2 separate regions of the Homo sapiens genome follow, and region 2 is linked to region 1. Evidence: fine-mapped expression QTL. A gene starts in region 1. The other region holds a variant in brackets. All regions are shown on one strand. Distances are between the middles of the regions.

What was found.
Region 2: its variant is fine-mapped to the expression of SRSF7 in visceral fat (GTEx, PIP above 0.99).

What each region holds. Positions count from the first base shown.
Region 1 is chr2:38,746,152-38,754,936 of GRCh38, reverse strand. SRSF7 (serine and arginine rich splicing factor 7) reads left to right here and starts at 3,576. Exons shown (of 8, transcript NM_001031684.3): 1 at 3,576-3,708; 2 at 4,743-4,923; 3 at 5,232-5,408; 4 at 6,284-6,358; 5 at 6,780-6,890; 6 at 8,190-8,243; 7 at 8,758-8,785. The coding sequence starts at 3,681. RefSeq lists an enhancer at 3,072-3,131 and silencers at 3,992-4,091, 4,302-4,491.
Region 2 is chr2:38,724,334-38,733,118 of GRCh38, reverse strand. It overlaps GALM (galactose mutarotase), which reads right to left. Exons shown (of 7, transcript NM_138801.3): 5 at 3,422-3,563; 6 at 1,210-1,384. The region is part of intron 1 of LOC124905993 (a long non-coding RNA gene); the gene reads left to right. Among named protein-coding and RNA genes, the nearest start is that of SRSF7, 23 kb to the left of the region's middle. The variant C/A (reference allele first, on the strand shown) is at 4,246.

The sequences.
Region 1 (8,785 bases):
AGTATTTTTTAGCATAGACTACTTATTTATATTAAAAATAGAATATTGGTGTGGCAGAGGGGGAAGTTGGGGTCCAGGAGGCGGAGTCTGAGGTCTGCCCACTTCTTGCCCTGCCTTAAAAACAAAAAAACAAACAAAATAGACTAATGTGCAAAACATTTAAATTTTTTTTCCTTTCTTGTTTTAACGTTTTCACATCCAAGCTCAAATGGTGATAATGACTTAAAAGTGAAACTGAAATGGTGAGAGAAGTACGATTAAAAAGGGAACTTTTTCTTTAATATTTATCTGGAAATACCAAATGTAGAAAATGCAGATACATTTTGAAAACTGCTGTAAAAGGCTTATGAATTACTCCCCTTTCCTAAACTAATAATATTTTTAAAATTTAACAATAGTAACATGTTAATAACTAATATTTCATATTAGGAAATATTACAATATTTGAAGAAAGTAGTTTTCATATTCAAACAATCTGAGAATGTAATCTAAATTTAACAGATTTCTAGAGGCAGAAACTTATGTGGGTGAATGTGATTTCAACAAGAATCAGCAGGAATAAAAGTTCTCTGCACAGTAAAATCTCCCTGATTTGGACTGACATTTAGTGAAAAGAATTGGTTGCCTGTTCTTAGAGAAAGAGTGTTCAGTAGAAAGTAGAATAGTCTATGGAAATAGTATACAGTACTATTATTTTTTCATGGTAACCAGATTAACAAAGCCTGGCCTTGTACTGGCCCTGCTTTCATAGGAATAAACAGTATGTAATTAGCTTATTGAACACCTGTCTGCAAGACAAGCATGTCTGTGAATCAGGATTTGAAAGCAATTGGTTATAAATTTTAAAACTGCTTCTGTTTACTATTACTTGCTTAGAAATTTCTTTAGTACAACTATAGACTTTGTTTTGTTTTGTTGGTAGAGATGGGGGTCTGGTTCTGTTGCCCAGGCTGGTCTCAAAGTCCTGGCCTCAAGATATCCTCCCACCTCAACCTCCCAAAGTGCAGAGATTACCGGCATGAGCCACAAAACCTGACTTAGACTTTGTATTCAGAGTCAAAAAAAGTTTATTGGAAAAAAAAAAGTTTATTGAGGTTTATTAGGAATTATACAGTATAACATGCACTGTCTTTCAAGCAGTTATCTATGCTTGGCTCAACAGTAATTTTCTTTTTTTTTGAGTCGGAGTTTTGCTCTTTTGTTTTGGAGATGGAGTTTCACTCTTGTTGCCCAGGCTGGAGTGCAATGGCGCAATCTCGGCTCCCTGCAACCTCCACCTCCCGGGTTCAAGCAATTCTCCTGCCTCAGCCTCCCAAGTAGCTGGGATTACAGGTGCGCACCACCACGCCTGGCTAATTTTTTGTATTTTTAGTAGAGACGGGGGTTTCACCATGGCCAGGCTGGTCTTGAACTTCTGACCTTAGGTGATCCGCCCGCCTCGGCCTCCCAGAGTGCTGGGATTACAGATGTGAGTCACAGCGCCCGGCCTAGGAGTTTTGCTCTTGTTGCTCAGGCTGTAGTGCAATGGCAAGATCTCAGCTCACCACAACCTCCACCTCTCAGGTTCAAGCGATTCTCCTGCCTCAGCCTCCCGAGTAGCTGGGATTACAGGCATGCGCCACCACGCCCAGCTAATTTTGTATTTTTAGTAGAGACGGGGTTCCTCCATGTTGGTCAGGCTGGTCTCGAACTCCTGACCTCAGGTGATCCGCCAGCTTCAGCCTCCCAAAGTGCTGGGATTACAGGCATGAGCCACTGCGCGCGGCCTCAACAGTAATTTTCATAGCTTCTTAACAGAAGAAAGTCAACTTAGTGAGGCTTTACAGAATTTATATTTTATCTTTCAGATACCATATAATCTTTTTTTTTGAGATGGAGTCTTGCTCTGTCGCCCAGGCTGGAGTGCAGTGGCACGATCTCAGCTCACTGCAACCTCCGCCTCCTGGGTTCAAGCAGTTCTCCTGCCTCAGCCTCCGGAGTAGCTGGGACTACAGGCACACGCCACCACGCCAGGCTAATTTTTTGTATTTTAGTAGGGACAGGGTTTTACTGTGTTGCCCAGGCTGGTCTCAAACTCCTGAGCTCAGGCAATCCGCCCGCCTCGGCCTCCCAAAGTGCTGGCATTACAGGCGTGAGCCACTGCGCCTGGCCCCTATATAGTCTTTATAATTATTGTTTAATTCTTTTGAGAAGAACCTATAGATCTTTATAATTATTGTTTCTTTTGAGAAGAACCTTGTTAAGAAAAAAATCACCAAGACTAAGGGAGAACACATATACTCTACAGAGCTTCTATTTTCTTCTTAGAGATCTTCCTGAGAGAGATTAATTCTCTCCATAACTTAATCAACGTAAAAAATATGCATAAAATCATAGCATGACCTGGAAAGAATCCATGCTTTATTCACCAACTAGGCCTGCTTTCCCTGTACTCTCCATTCCACACCTATACTCACCAAATGAAGTTGCAAAAGACGAAAAAGATAAAAATGCAAATACCTAAATGTCTTTTTTTATGTACATTTCCAACTTTTGTGTATTCCAAGAATTTACGATGTAATGTCTATGTTTCTAGCAAAAAAGAACTTTTTCTCTATTTGTAGTTGGTGTCTAGAGCAATTCTAATGTAAAGAAGTTTTGCATTTATTTGGTACTGTTGAGTGGCTGAGCAGCAAGGCTGCTATTTCCACTGAGTGGAGATACACAAAGATGACTTAGGAGTCCCAGTCCTCAGGATCGGAGTATTGGTGGATCACACGTGTTACAAAGCAGAAAGCATTAGGAAAAGCAAATCAGTTACTTTGAGCTTCAGATGCAAATAATTTCCAAATTGTCACTGGCCAAAATGCTTTAAACATTCAGGGTTTTGTCACAATTTCAATATAAAGGGGGGAGGGGGGAGCGGGACCCCACAGCTCTATTCCTTTGTCTTTCAGACTCCAAGAACTCAGACCGTGGTGGTGCAAACTGGTGACTGGTTCAAAAGAAGTTGGAGGGGGCGTGTAGGACAGGAGGCTTTACCACCAGTCCCAGGGTGCGTCAAGGTCTATGGTGTAAAAACCACTACTCAGAATGGCGGGGTTCATGGACTTTTCACCATGGCCAAACCTTCGATTACCTCTGATGAGCCCCAAAGATCAGAGTAGCTGACTAGGCCAGGTCCCCCAGCAGAAGGGCGCGACGGCTGCAACATCAGCGGTTAAATTGTACAGCCTTTCATAGGCCGGTCTAATGCATCCGTACTAAGATTGTTAAGGCTGAGGGTCCCTAGCCTGGGGAAAAACGAAAGGAGGCAGAGGGTAGGGAGACGGGAAAGAAGACAAGGAGGGTGTAGAAAACGGGGAGAGGAGGGGGCGGGACAGCATGGGGAAGGCCTCAGGTTTACTGGAGAGATCGTGGCGTTCCCATAGAAACGTATCCCTCCGCCCATGACCCGCGTGTTAGTCTCTTCAGTTCCTTCCGCGTCGTTTCTTGGCTGTTTCCGCCCAGCTCCTTTGTGCCGCGCAGAACAACGAGATGACGCATGCGCAAAGCGCAGCGGCCGCATATATAAACGCGAACCCGGGCTCTTCCTCGTAGTGCCGCCGGGACTCTTGGCGGGTGAAGGTGTGTGTCAGCTTTTGCGTCACTCGAGCCCTGGGCGCTGCTTGCTAAAGAGCCGAGCACGCGGGTCTGTCATCATGTCGCGTTACGGGCGGTACGGAGGAGGTAAGAAGCTGGAGTCCGGTGAGGGACGTTGGTGTGGGTGTAGTGAGCACTGCGAGGCCGTAGGGTTGTCGCGGAGGTTGGGAGACGGTTATTCCGCGTGCGTAATGGCGGCTTAGGAGCACGCCAGACGAAGCCGGAGGCAGCGGAGGCGGGGTGCTGAAGGGAGACGGGATGGCGGGTGTACATCTCTGCCGAGTTCCGTACTCTTGGGCATTTTTGTGGCCCAATCCAGCCTAAAGCAGGGTTGAGATGACGGTTTTCGCGTTGCCTTTCTCGGAGCTGCCCGCCGGCCCCCCTCCCCCCCCGCCCTCGGCGGCGGCTGCCATTTTGCGCACATTGAGGACCGTGGTGGCGCATTTCCTCAGCGCTTTCCCGCCACTTCAGCGGACAGATCTGGCCGCAGCTGTAAGATCGTGGTTGTGTTTGAGATAGAACGAAATTGGCAGCTGTGAGCTGCATGTTCTCGTCAAACAATCGGTTAAATTGCGGAATGGGAATGGGGACGTAATCTGCGACTGGCGGCTGGGTTTTTTTTAGTTATTTCCAGCGCGGTTTATGGCTCTGGGGCGGGGAGCTGGAGTCTTGGGCGAGCCTGTGCCTGGGACGTTTGCCGCGGAGGACGAGAGCCGGCGCAGCCCTGCTCTCCTGGCCCGGCCCCTACCGAGGCCCTCCCGCCGCCGACGCCGCTGCCGCTGCGGGCCCGCGCGCTCCCGGTGCGCCCGGGGCTGCCGGGACTCATGGGTGGGGCCGGGCCAGGTTCCGCCCCACGCCTCGGTGTATCCTACCACGCGTTTCTGCTTGTGTTCGGGAGGGTCACCCCGCATTATTTAGAACGTTAAGAATTTTGTCAAAAGTCTAGTTTCTCAGGGATTTGCGGACTTTCACCAGTTTTACGACTAAGTTTTGTCTTGGATAGAGGGCATTAAATGTGCTTTACCCAATCTTGAGGATGGCCCGTTTTAAGGCAAATAAGTAATTGAAACTTGGGCCAGATTTTGCGTAACGTGCATTCTTCTATTTGCGTTTTTAAACAGAAACCAAGGTGTATGTTGGTAACCTGGGAACTGGCGCTGGCAAAGGAGAGTTAGAAAGGGCTTTCAGTTATTATGGTCCTTTAAGAACTGTATGGATTGCGAGAAATCCTCCAGGATTTGCCTTTGTGGAATTCGAAGATCCTAGAGATGCAGAAGATGCAGTACGAGGACTGGATGGAAAGTAAGTAAGATGTTATGAATCTTCTGTTCATTAAAATATACTGTGGCTAGATAATGAACTTAGTGCTAAATTTGGATTCTGAAGTCTGGAAGAGACCTTAAATAGCTGGTCATAGTGTTAAATGCTAAAGGCACACGAAGGTTAAAGAAGATAGCGGAGATGGAGTTAGGGCTTGGTAAAGACCGCCAAAGTTTGTTGGGGGGGAAGGAGTGGTTGGAAAGAGTGAGTGGTTGGAAAGAGTTCTTTTTAAATCTATAAGTCCTGAATATATTTTTAACTTTAGAATTTTGTTAATTTGCTTTTATTAGGGTGATTTGTGGCTCCCGAGTGAGGGTTGAACTATCGACAGGCATGCCTCGGAGATCACGTTTTGATAGACCACCTGCCCGACGTCCCTTTGATCCAAATGATAGATGCTATGAGTGTGGCGAAAAGGGACATTATGCTTATGATTGTCATCGTTACAGCCGGCGAAGAAGAAGCAGGTATTTATTTTAATAAAGGAATGGTTGGTATTCTAGTTAATCAAGTAATTCTTTTATTAGCAAGGCAGAAACTAGTGTTTTTCTATAAACTTGAATGTTAATTGTACAGGTGTATTTTACAATTTTTGTTTAATTAAAAAAATGTTACTATATTAATAATCAACCTGGTCAAAACCTTTCAGGTTTCTTCGTTTGAGTCAGTCGCCTTGATTCAGAATGTCACGAGCCTTATGATATCATGCTGAGGCGCCTTGCAAATCCGACAATTAAGATCCTCCTAGACCTTGAGGTGATCAGCATAAGAGGCCAGATCCCCTCGAGTCATCTACACCTAGCTTCACCTTATTCTTTAAAGGGCAGAAAATTTGAGACGGTGATCGCCGTAACAGTAAATTTGGCTTACAATTGGGGCCCCCCTCCGGTTTAGAAAGAGGAACACCAGATTGACCACATTCCCAACTAGAAAAATCTTCTTGCGTCAATCAAGCCTCACCTGGCTCATTTGGCTGTCAGTTTGATCGTCGTTAGATTGAAGAAAACATCTAGATGCAGCGATCGGCTATAGATACTTCTAGATCGTCTAGATCTACTAGACCATGGGCCAAAGAGGGTCGACCTGCAAACTTGCAAGGTTTATTTTAAATACACATTACAGTGTTTTATATTATGTAATGCTAAGTTGTAATTCAGCTTTTAACAAATCTTTTTTTAGGTAGTAAAAAAAAAAATACTCAACAACTAATAGGCCCAGAGTTTATTTCCAAATGAGACACTAAATTTAAATAGTTTTGAGATTTGATTTCAGCAGAGGCACACAAACTCTTAAAAACGAGTTATTGTCTGACATTTTGTTTTTTCTCTAACTTGAAAAATAGGTCACGGTCTAGATCACATTCTCGATCCAGAGGAAGGCGATACTCTCGCTCACGCAGCAGGAGCAGGGGACGAAGGTGAGATCTTGTTTAACTGAAGTCTTTCTGTATTATTATTAAATTCACTGGTAGTCCAACACAGAAAAAGCTCATTATTTTTTTTGGAGACAGGGTCTTGCTCTGTCACCCGGGCTGGAGTACAGGGGCATAACCACGACTCACTGCTGCCTTGATGATCTCTTGGGTTTAAGCAGTTCTCCTACCTCAGCCTCCCGAGTAGCTGGGACTGTAGGCACTGCCACCATACCCAGCTAATTTTTATTTTTGTAGAAATGGTCTTGCACTGTTTCCCAGGCTGGTCTCAAGCTCCTGGGCTCAAACGATCCTCCCGCAGTGCTGGGATTATGGGCATGAGCCACTGCACCGTTCCCCAGTTGAAGTCTTAACAGGCCAAAAAAAAAAAAAACTGTGGAGATGGACTTAAAGTTCTTTATTTTAGGTCAAGGTCAGCATCTCCTCGACGATCAAGATCTATCTCTCTTCGTAGATCAAGATCAGCTTCACTCAGAAGATCTAGGTCTGGTTCTATAAAAGGATCGAGGTATTTCCAGTATGTAACACTTTTTTTCCTTACTTGTGTTTGGATTGTTCACATCTTATCAGTAGAGTGTCTTAAGGACATAATTCAAATGGATTGCTTCAGGGAATATTTGAGATGTAAAAGTTTGGAATTTATGTGTAACTTGTAACATAAATATTAACCTAGTTTTACAGATGAAGAAAAGGGCTACTAGAGATTTTAAGGCTTGTTAGGCCGTGTGGTAGACAAGGGTCCCAAGCAATACAGTTCTACTCAACACTCTGGGTAGGCATGTTGCTATAAACTTTTCTGGCTTCAGATTGGATGATACTAGCTCTGAAAGATGGTAATTGATTTTCCCGACAAAAAGGCCTATTAGCACCAGGAAAAGAGATCAGAAGCAAGTAGAAACATTTCTCATTTTTGGAATGATGGGGTTGATTTGAGACACTGGAAAGTTGACTAGGGCAGTAGTGTGTACACAGAAATGAATGTGGATTTTTTTTTTTAGACCGTTTCAGACCTGAAAAAACTAAAGAACCAGAGCTTTACTATTTGTAGAAGGCCTTAAAAGGAGATAGAATGGAAAAAATTGTAAAATAAGTATTGCAACATGTAATTAACAATATTGTTATCTGTACCAACGATAAAACCGTGGTACGGAATGCTACTGGGAGTTAAATTGCTGTTTAATAGCACAAAACCTTTAAATGCAGGAATTCTGAATCTTGTGGTCTATTTGAGAAAGCTATGAACCATCTCTTTAGATAAATTTAAAAGATAGATATGTCAGTCTGATTTGGTTTGTCTGACAGATTGATGGCTCTCAAACATAACTTGATCCAGGAATAAAGCCTTACAAATGGGGGGCGGCTTTCTTTTCGTCTGGCCTTATCACCTGAATTAGTCTCAGTTCAGGGGTCTGGTTATTTTCATCCTGCCTTAGCCTCCTGAGTAGCTGGGACTGCCATTGTGTACCACAGTGCCCAGCTGAGGGATCTGTGCCTTAAGTGAGGTTAGTTTTGCTTCCTTCATACCAGTCTCATCAAATGAAAACCATGTATTTCCCTTGGATATTACACAGTGTTTGAGAATGTTATACCTGTACAGAAACTAACCAATTGAGTGATAGAAACAAGTAATTGAAATGGGGGTTCCTTATGTCTGGTAACACTTTGTTTGACAGTGTGTTAGACAGAATAAGGCAAGTGTTGCATCTTGTTTAGTTTTAGCTTCTTTATGCCTGACCAACCTAATACAGTGTTGAGTAGTTAAGGAAATTCCTTTGGACTGATTGATATAATTGTGTTTTTCACTTTTTTTATTAAGATCCCCGTCGAGGTCAAGATCAAGATCCAGGTCTATTTCACGACCAAGAAGCAGGTAGGGTAAAAATTTGATTATGCTTTTCTAGTTATATGGCACCAATATCCAAAGAGTTCAAAGTGTTTTTAATTGTTGAAATTTTAAGTGTTAACTCTAAACTTAGGTTTTAGTGGGAACACAGTACCTTATTTGTGTATGTCCTATTTATTACTGGCTGACTTTCCCTGAACAAGGGAATGTAAAACTATAGTGAGAAAGAAGCTTATGACTTGGGGGATTATATTAAAGAGGCCCTTGTTAGAACTGATAGGTGCATGGAGAAGCATCCTGAAATCGATGTGCTTAAAGCAGAATGTAAAAGATTAATCATGATGTAGTAATTGAGTCATTTTTTGAAAAACAGTTGTTGAAAGATTGGCTTTTGTTAGCAACAACTGGTAGGATGTTTTTCAGTTTAAGTGCAGTCTGACATTTTAAGCTTAGGACATTTGGGGGTTTTACGGTATTGGTGACTACAAGAAAGGGATTGGTTAGTACTCTTTCTTTAATAGAATTTCTCATGTTTTGACAGCCGATCAAAGTCCAGATCTCCATCTCCA
Region 2 (8,785 bases), 22 kb after region 1:
CTCCAGAGTAGCTGGGATCACAGGCACCTGCCACCATGCCCAGATAATTTTTTTATTTTTACTAGAGACAGGGTTTTGTCATGTTGACCGGGCTGGTCTCGAACTCCTGACCTCAAGTGATACACCTGCCTCAGACTCTCAAAGTGCTGGGATTACAGGTGTGAGCCACCGCACCTGGCCCTTTTTTTTTTTTTTTTTTAAAGACAGGGTCTCATTCTGTTGCACAGGCTGGAGTGCAGTGGTGTGATCATGGCTCACTGCAGCCTTGACCTCCCAGGCTCAGGGATCCTCCCACCTCAGCCTCCCAAGTAGCTGGGGCCACAGGTGTGCACTACCACACCTGGCTAATTTTTCTAATAATCTGTAAAGATGGGGTCTCCCTGTGTTGCCCAGGTTAGCCTCAATCTCAGGCTCAAGCAATCCTCCCGCCTCAGCCTCCCAAAGTGCTGGGATTACAGGCATGAGCCACCTTGCCCAGCCCAAGGTGCAAGCTTCTTATTGTGGGCTGGCACTTTCAGGAGTACTGCTCTGGGTAACAACCAGAAAAGAAAGTTATGAGGGAGCACATAGGAGGAGACGATATGGAAGCTCTCCTTAAGTGTGGCTGCAGAAAACGAGAAGGTATTGTTAAGGAGAAACAAACTGGATAAAGGCTTTGAAGGTACAAAATTTCAGCTTTCTTAAAACCATGTAAATCCCATGTTAGTAGCTTGGCTATGGGTTTTCTGTGACTTGCAGAAGAGAATAAGCATGAACTTTTGAGCCGGGCACAGTGGCTCACGCCTATAATCCTAGCACTTTGGGAGGCCAAGGCAGGTGGATCACCTGAGGTCAGGGGTTTTGAGACCAGCCTGGCCAACATGGTGGAACCCTGTCTCTACTAAAAATACAAAAATTAAGCAGGCATGGTGGTAGGCGCCTGTAATCCTAGCTACTTGGAAGGCTGGGGCAGGAGAATCGCTTGGACCCAGGAGGCGGAGGTTGCAGTGAGCTGAGATCGTGCCCAGGAGGCGGAGGTTGCAGTGAGCTGAGATCGTGCCACTGCACTACAGCCTAGGCGACAAGAGTGAGACTCTGTCTCAAAAAACAAACCAAACAAACAAAGCATGAACTTTTGAATCATACAAGCTGATTCGAGTGTAGTGAACTCTGTCGTACAGTGTGACCTTGGACACAACTCTACTCTGAAAAGCCAGCCTGTGGCATTACCTGATTGACTGCATCAGGCCAGTTCTGAGTCTCCAGGCAGAAACCGGAGTGCTTGGGATAGACAGCTCCATTCTTGCCCTTTAATGTGCCATCCAGGAAGTTGCCCGTGTAAAACTGGACCCCGGGCTGGGTGGTGTATACTTCTAGTACCCGCCCGCTTGCAGCATGATGCACCCTGGTAAGAAATACAAACAACATGAGTCCAGGGCAGAAAAGCAGGTGGGGAGGAGTAGAAGCTGGGAAGCGGCTTTGAGACAGGAATCAGACCCAGCCACAGAGCAGGGACAAGATATAAGGAGGAGATGAAGGTAGGAAGAGCATGATGGAAAATTCTTCCAGTCTCAAAGGCAAGGCATGAGCAGGTGGCTTTCAGGATCCTCAGTAGCTTCTTTGGGGCATCACAAAACAGACTCACTCCTGCCAGCTGGGGAGTAGGGAGGAAGGCAGCAGCCAGGTTGGAGAGAGGAAGGTCCTGGAGAGGCTGAGATTCTTTTTTTTTTTTTTTTTTTTTTTGAAATAGAGTCTTTCTCTATTGCCCAGGCTGGAGTGCAGTGGCGCGACCTCGGCTCACTGCAACCTCAGCCTCCCGGGCTCAAGCAATTCTCCCACTTCAGCTCCCCAGTAGCTGGGACTGCAGGTGCGCACTACCATGTCCAGCTAATTTTTGTTTGTTTGTTTGTTTTGAGATGGAGTCTGGCTCTGTCACCCAGGGAGGAGTGCAGTGGTGCGATCTTGGCTCACTGCAACCTCCGCCCCCTTGGTTAAAGCAATTCTCCTGCCTCAGCCTCTAGAGTAGCTGGGATTACAGGTACCTGCCACCACATCCGGCTAATTTTTTGTACTTTTAGTATTGTCGGGGTTTCATCATGTTGGCCCAACTGGTCTTGAACTACTGACCTCAGGTGATCTGACCACCTCAGCCTCCAAAAGTGCTGGGATTACAGGCATGAGAGCCACTGCACCTGGCCTGAGATTCTTTTTTTTTTTTTGAGATGGAGTTTTGCTCTGTTGCCTAGCCTGGAGTGCAGTGGCGTGATCTCGGCTCACTACAACTTCCACCCCCTGGGTTCAAGTGATTCTCCTGCCTCAGCCTCCTGAGTAGCTGAGATTATAGGTGCCCACCACCATGCCTGGCTAATTTTTATATTTTTAGTAGAGACGGCGTTTCACCATGTTGGCGAGGCTGGTCTCAAACTCCTGACCTCAAGTGATCTGCCCACCTCAGCCACCTAAAGTGCTGGGATTACAGGCATGAGCCACCACGCCCAGCCCGGAGAAGGTCTTTGATCTTCTTTCTGTCACTATTTGGTTTGAGTCATTTTTTCTGCTTTATTTAAAAACTGTTGACCGGGTGCAGTGGCTTACACCTGTAATCCCAGCACTTTGGGAGGCCGAGGTGGGTGGATTACAAGGTCAGGAGTTCAAGACCAGCCTGACCAACATTGTGAAACCCCATCTCTACTAAAAATACAAAAATTAGCTGGGCATAGTGGCACGTGCCTGTTATCCCAGCTACTCAGGAGGCTGAGGCAGGAGAATCACTTGAACCCGGGAGGCGGAGGTTGCAGTAAACCTAGATCGCACCACTGCATTCCAGTCTGGGCGACAGAGCAAGACTCCGTCACACACACGCACACACACAAAACTGTTAATTCTGCAAACATTTATTCATTATTTGCTAGTGCCAAGGATGATATTAGGTGTTGGGGTAGAGGTAGGGCTTCACAAAGATGAAATGGCATGAGGAACTGGGATTTGGTGAGAAGGCGAGAGCGTGCACACAAGTGTCTATCGGTCAAGGCTGGAGGCGGTGAGTGCTGCAGGAGATGCCTAGCCTCCAACTGGCCATGGAGTAGGCAGGCATAAGTCACAGATCGAGAAAGCACAAAGGCTCTGGAAGTTCAGTGACAGCCGAGGTGACTTCACTAGGAAGAGTTAAGGCTTCTAACAGAAAATGGGCCTTAAAGAACAGGCAGAGAGGGAGAGAGCGGGTGCCAAGCAGGGGGAATAGGGGTAATGGCAGGTGGGGGACTGGGATAAATTCTACAGAGCTCACCTGTGCCATGGGAGCTTTGAGAAAATATGGGATGTGGTATTGGGTCACTTGTAGCATAGTAAATGCTATTGATATGGCCAGAGGAAAAGCTCCAAAGGAAAATAGGACTTGGTGTCATTTCTTCCTTACAGACTCAGGAAGTGAAAAGTACCTGACCTTGCACAAAAATGCTTTTCTTTAGATCCCTTCAGACAGAAATTGTGGTCAAAACCATTGAGATGGAAGTCCTGCAGGTGTTTTCCAAGCTCCACTGGCTTTCTCAGGTCGAATGCAGTGCCTTGCACTGGGGCAACTTCTCCTGATGGGAAGAGACAGAAAACAAAGGTGATAAATGCCCAAGTCTCATCTTTATATAGAGCCTCCACAAAGGCTCACTGGTTCTACTCTCTCCGCCTTCATTTTAATTTGTTAAGGAGATGGGAGCCCAGATCCTGGGAAACATGCAGAGACCCCATCTCTACCAAAATAATAAAATAAATAAATAAATAAATGTAAAAAATTAGCCAGGCATAGTGATGTGTCCCTGTGGTCTCAGCTACTCAGGAGGCTGAGGCAGGAGGATTGCTTGAGCCCAGGAGGTCGAGGCTACAGTGAACCATGATTGCACCACTGCACTCCAGCATAGGTAACAGAATGAGACTGTCTTAAAAAACAAATATGGAGAGGGTGGGGAAGAGAAAAAAAAAACCCTCAAATAAATAGAGTATATGGGAGTATGGGCTCAGGTTATATGCAAATACTGCACCATTTTATAGAAGGAACTAGAGTATCTAATGATTTAAGTATCAGTAGGGGGTCCTGGAACCAATCCTCCATGGATTCCAAGGGACAATGGAAAATATATACTCATAAATATATAGTAACATATACATAAAAGCCAGAGTTGTTCTAGCTGAATCAAGTACAGGTTCTGAGCAGCGCAGGTGGAAAACCCCAGGATAAGATGATGGCAGAGGTCCACTTCCTCTTAAAATTATGGC[C/A]CACCCAGGAGTAGTAACAGCCAGGTGCTAGAACCTTGTACCAAGTACAGAGAATACCAGTTTCCTCTGTAGCAGGCCAAATCACTCCAGCCATTTTTTCTTGAAGAGGAAAAGAAAAGGGCTCTGTTTCAGAGGCTTAAACAATGTTACGGTTGAGTTTTTGTTTTGTTTTGTTTTGTTTTGTTTTTTGAGATGGAGTCTTGCTCTGTCACCCAGGCTGGAGCGCAGTGGCGCGATCTCAGCTCAGTGCAACCTCCGCCTCCTGGGTTCAAGTGATTCTTCTGTCTCAGCCTCATGAGTAGCTGGGATTACAGGTGCACACCACCATGCTTTTGTATTTTTAGTAGAGACGGGGTTTCACCATGTTGGCCAGGCTGGTCGTGAACTCCTGACAGGTGATCTGCCCACCTCGGCCTCCCAAAGTGCTAGTATTATAGGCGTGAGCCACTGCACCCAGCCAAAAAAAAAGTTTTTTTTTTTTGAGACAGAGTTTTGCTCGTCGCCCAGGCTGGAGTGCAATGGCACAATCTCAGCTCACTGCCACCTCTGCCTCCCAGGTTCAAGTGATTCTCCCACCTCAGCCTCCCAAGTAGCTGGGATTACAGGCACACACCACCACGCCCAGCTAATTTTTGTATTTTTAGTAGAGATGGGGTTTCACCATGTTGGCCAGGCTAGTCTCCAACTCCTGACCTCAGGTGGTCCACCTGCCTTGGCCTCCCAAAGTGCTGGGATTACAGGTGTGAGCCACCACTCCTGGCCTAAAAAGTTTTCTTATAGTCCCAGAGCTGTCTCATATATTTTAAAGGTAAATGCAAATGTTAGGAGGTTAACATACTCTTTTAGGGTGATAATTATTTTTCCCTTTCATGTGGTCAAATGGCAATTTTAGGAACTTGGCTTCCACTGTAATCAGGGGAGAGAAGTAGCATGCAAAGTAGGGCTGAAATCTTAGGAGGCTAAGAAAAAGCAGGAACTTGTACCTTACCATTAAAATAATTTAAAAAGTAAAAGAAGAACCAATTGCCAGTCATTTAAAACATTTGGTTCTGCTTTTGTGGGTTCCTAAATGCTGAGAGAACACACAAATCTATCTGAGTAAAAGAGGACATTTCATTTATTTTTCCTTTTTCTTTTTTTTTTTTTTTTGAGACGTAGTCTCCCTCTGTTGCCTGGGCTGGAGTGCAATGGCCAGTCTAGGCTCACTGCAACCTCTGCCTCCTGGTTCAAGTGATTCTCCTGCCTCAGCCTCCCGAGGAGCTGGGACTACAGGCACGCACCATCATGCCCAGCTAATTTTTGTATTTTTAGTAGAGACGGGGTTTCACCATATTGGCCAGAGTGGTCTCGAACTCCTGACCTCGTGAACCACCTGCCTTGGCCTCCCAAAGGGCTGGGATTACAGGCGTGAACCACTGCACCCGGCCCCATTTCTTTTCTTAAACTCAGAACTGCTGTTCAGAAATGTAGTCTTCCTAGTGCCTGAAGACTGGAGTTCTGAGTTCACATACAGCCTCAGGATGCCTAGGTACGAAGCACTCAAGTGAGACACTGAGGTCCAGGCGATACCATCCTGGTGTGTGGGTGTCCACTGTTTAACCGAGAGAATCTGGGAAGTGCACAAAGGATTCCTTGCTCTTTTTTTTTTTTTTTTTCTTGAGACGGAGTCTCACTCTGTCGCCCAAGCTGGAGTGCAGTGGCTCAACCTTGGCTCACTGCAATCTCTGCCTCCTGGGTTCAAGTGATTCTCCCGCCTCAGCCTCCCAAACAGATGGGATTACAGGGGCACACCACCATGCCCAGCCAATTTTTGTATTTTTTGTAGAGACGGGGTTTCAACATGTTGGCCAGGCTGGTCTCAAACTTCTGACCTCAAGTGACCCACCCACCTTGGCCTCCCAAAGTGCTGGGATTACAGGTGTGATCTGGCCAAATTTTTAAATAGGGAATATTTGCACATGCAACCAATTTTTTTTTAAGACAGAGTTTTGCTCTTGTTGCCCAGGCTGGAGTGCAGTGGCGTGATCTCGGCTCACCACAACCTTGGCCTCCCAGGTTCAAGCGATTCTTCTGCCTCAGCCTCCCAAGTAGCTGGGATTACAGGTGCCTGCCACCACACCCAGCTAATTGTTGTATTTTTAGTAGAGATGGGCTTTCACCGTTTTGGCCAAGCTGGTCTCAGGTGATCTGCCCATCTCGGCCTCCCAAAGTGCTGGGATTATAGGCAGGAGCCACTGAGCCCGGCCGAGACTACTTCGGCTTGCATTTGTCTGGTTTACTTTTGCATTCTTATTCTGAGTCACTTGGTTTGTATACAGCATTGTGTTGGGATTAAATGTGAGAGACTTGGCCAGGCGGGGTGGCTCATGCCTGTAATCCCAGCACGTTGGCAGGCCGAGGCGGGCGGATCACGAGGTCAGGAGATCGAGACCATCCCGGCTAAAACGGTGAAAACCCGTCTCTACTAAAAATACAAAAAATTAGCCGGGCGTAGTGGCGGGCGCCTGTAGTCCCAGCTACTTGGGAGGCTGAGGCAGGAGAATGGCGTGAACCCGGGAGGCGGAGCTTGCAGTGAGCCGAGATCCCGCCACTGCACTCCAGCCTGGGCGACAGAGCGAGACTCCGTCTCAAAAAAAAAAAAAATAAAAAAAAAAAAATAAAGGCACTTTTGTTTCCCAGTAGATGGTGCTAGAGACACAATAGAAAGAGGTTGCTTTACATCCTCTAAACCCTGATCAGTTCTGGCAGAATTCATAGTTGAACTTTTTGGATCTTGAAAGCCAAAGGCCAAATCCTAGATAGCAGTGTGACCCACTTGGGTATGCTTTTGTCCTGCAATGTTTACATGATATACTACCTCCCAGACTTGCATGGTGGCTCATGCCTGTAATCCCAGAGGTTTGGGAGGCTGAGGTGGGCGGATCACTTGAGGTCAGGAGTTTGAGACCAGCCTGGGCAACATGGCGAAACCCCGTCTCTACTAAAAATACAAAAATTAGCCAGGCGTGGTGGCGCATACCTGTAATATCAGCTACTCAGTAGACTGAGGCACAAGAATCGCTTGAACCCGGGAGATGGAGGTTGTGGTGAGCCAAGATTTCACCACTGCACTCCAGACAGAGTGAGACTCTGTCTCAAAAAAACAAAACAAAACAAAACAAAAAAAAGAAAAGAAATGAAAAGAAAAAGGCAACAATAATTCTTCTTTTTCTTTTTTAAAGACAGGGTCCTGCTATGCTCAAGTGATCCTCCTGCCTCAGCCTCCTGAGTAGCTAGGACTACAGGTGTATGCCCAATTATATATATACGTGTGTGTGTGTGTGTATGTGTGTGTTTAAGAGCGAGGGTCTCGTTCTGTTACCCAGGCTGTAGTGCAGTGGCATGATCACAGCTCAATGCAGCCTCGACCTGCCAGGCTCAGGTAATCCTCCTGTCTCAGCTTCCTGAGTAGCTGGGACCCCAGGCATGTACCAGCACCCCTGGCTAATTTTTAAATTATTTGAAGAGATGGGGGTCTCACTTTGTTGCGCAGGCTGGTTTCAAACTCCTGGGCTCAAGCAATCCTCCTGCCTCAGCCTCCCAAAGTACTGGGTTTACAAGCATGAGCCACCATGCTCAGCAATTCTTCATGAAACAATTAGACTTGGAAAAAAAAGCAGGTATTCTCATGGGCTCAGGAAGATTTTAGTCTTACCAACCTATATTCTGAGTGGTAACTTATGCTTTCTTCTATAACTTTAAATGGTGTTACAATATTTAATTCTTCCTTAAAGCCACAGTCAACTCAAAATCTAACCCTTATGACAGTCCTAGTGTGATCGACTCAGGTCAATCAAAATTGCTTATAATTATCTCCCTTAAAGTATAACTACAGGTAGAAGGCTTGAAGAAACAAAGAAAGCTACAAAATTTTTGTGAAGGAAAGACAGAGGGCATACATCAGGTCTCTTTCCTGTTACCAAGCAATCTACAAATCAGTGTTTGCTTCAGCTCTTCCCTCTGTAAAACGAAGCTGTTATTAGCTGCCACATTACATGGAAATATTTGATAAATGGTATGCTTGAACACCTTCAGGAGTCTGGCATAAATAAATATATATAACAGGGCCAAATTTCAGGCTACCATATAGAACACAGAGCAGAGGGCACAGAGGGTAAGACTTTAAGCATGACAAAGAAGCCCTGACTTAAAATTAGAAAACTGGGACAATTCTAAAATGATGAAATTTTTGGTAAATGAGAAGAAAAAAACAGTGAAGGCTCCAATCTATCTTGTCCATCCTCATGCACTGACACACTTGGTCATGTGCTTAATGATCAAGTATATGGAAAATGTGGAATTTGTCCCCCAGATTCGCCATGTCTCTGGGCCCTTTCTCATAACTAGAATGAATGTTCCTTCTGGGTCCCCTATGCCCACCACAGTCTGGCAAAGTCCAATTGATCGTTCAAGAATATTCTCTAACATAATTTCTTCTTGTGAAATATTCTAACCTCTATAGCCAGGACCAATCTTTTTTTTCTTTGTTCTCATTATACTT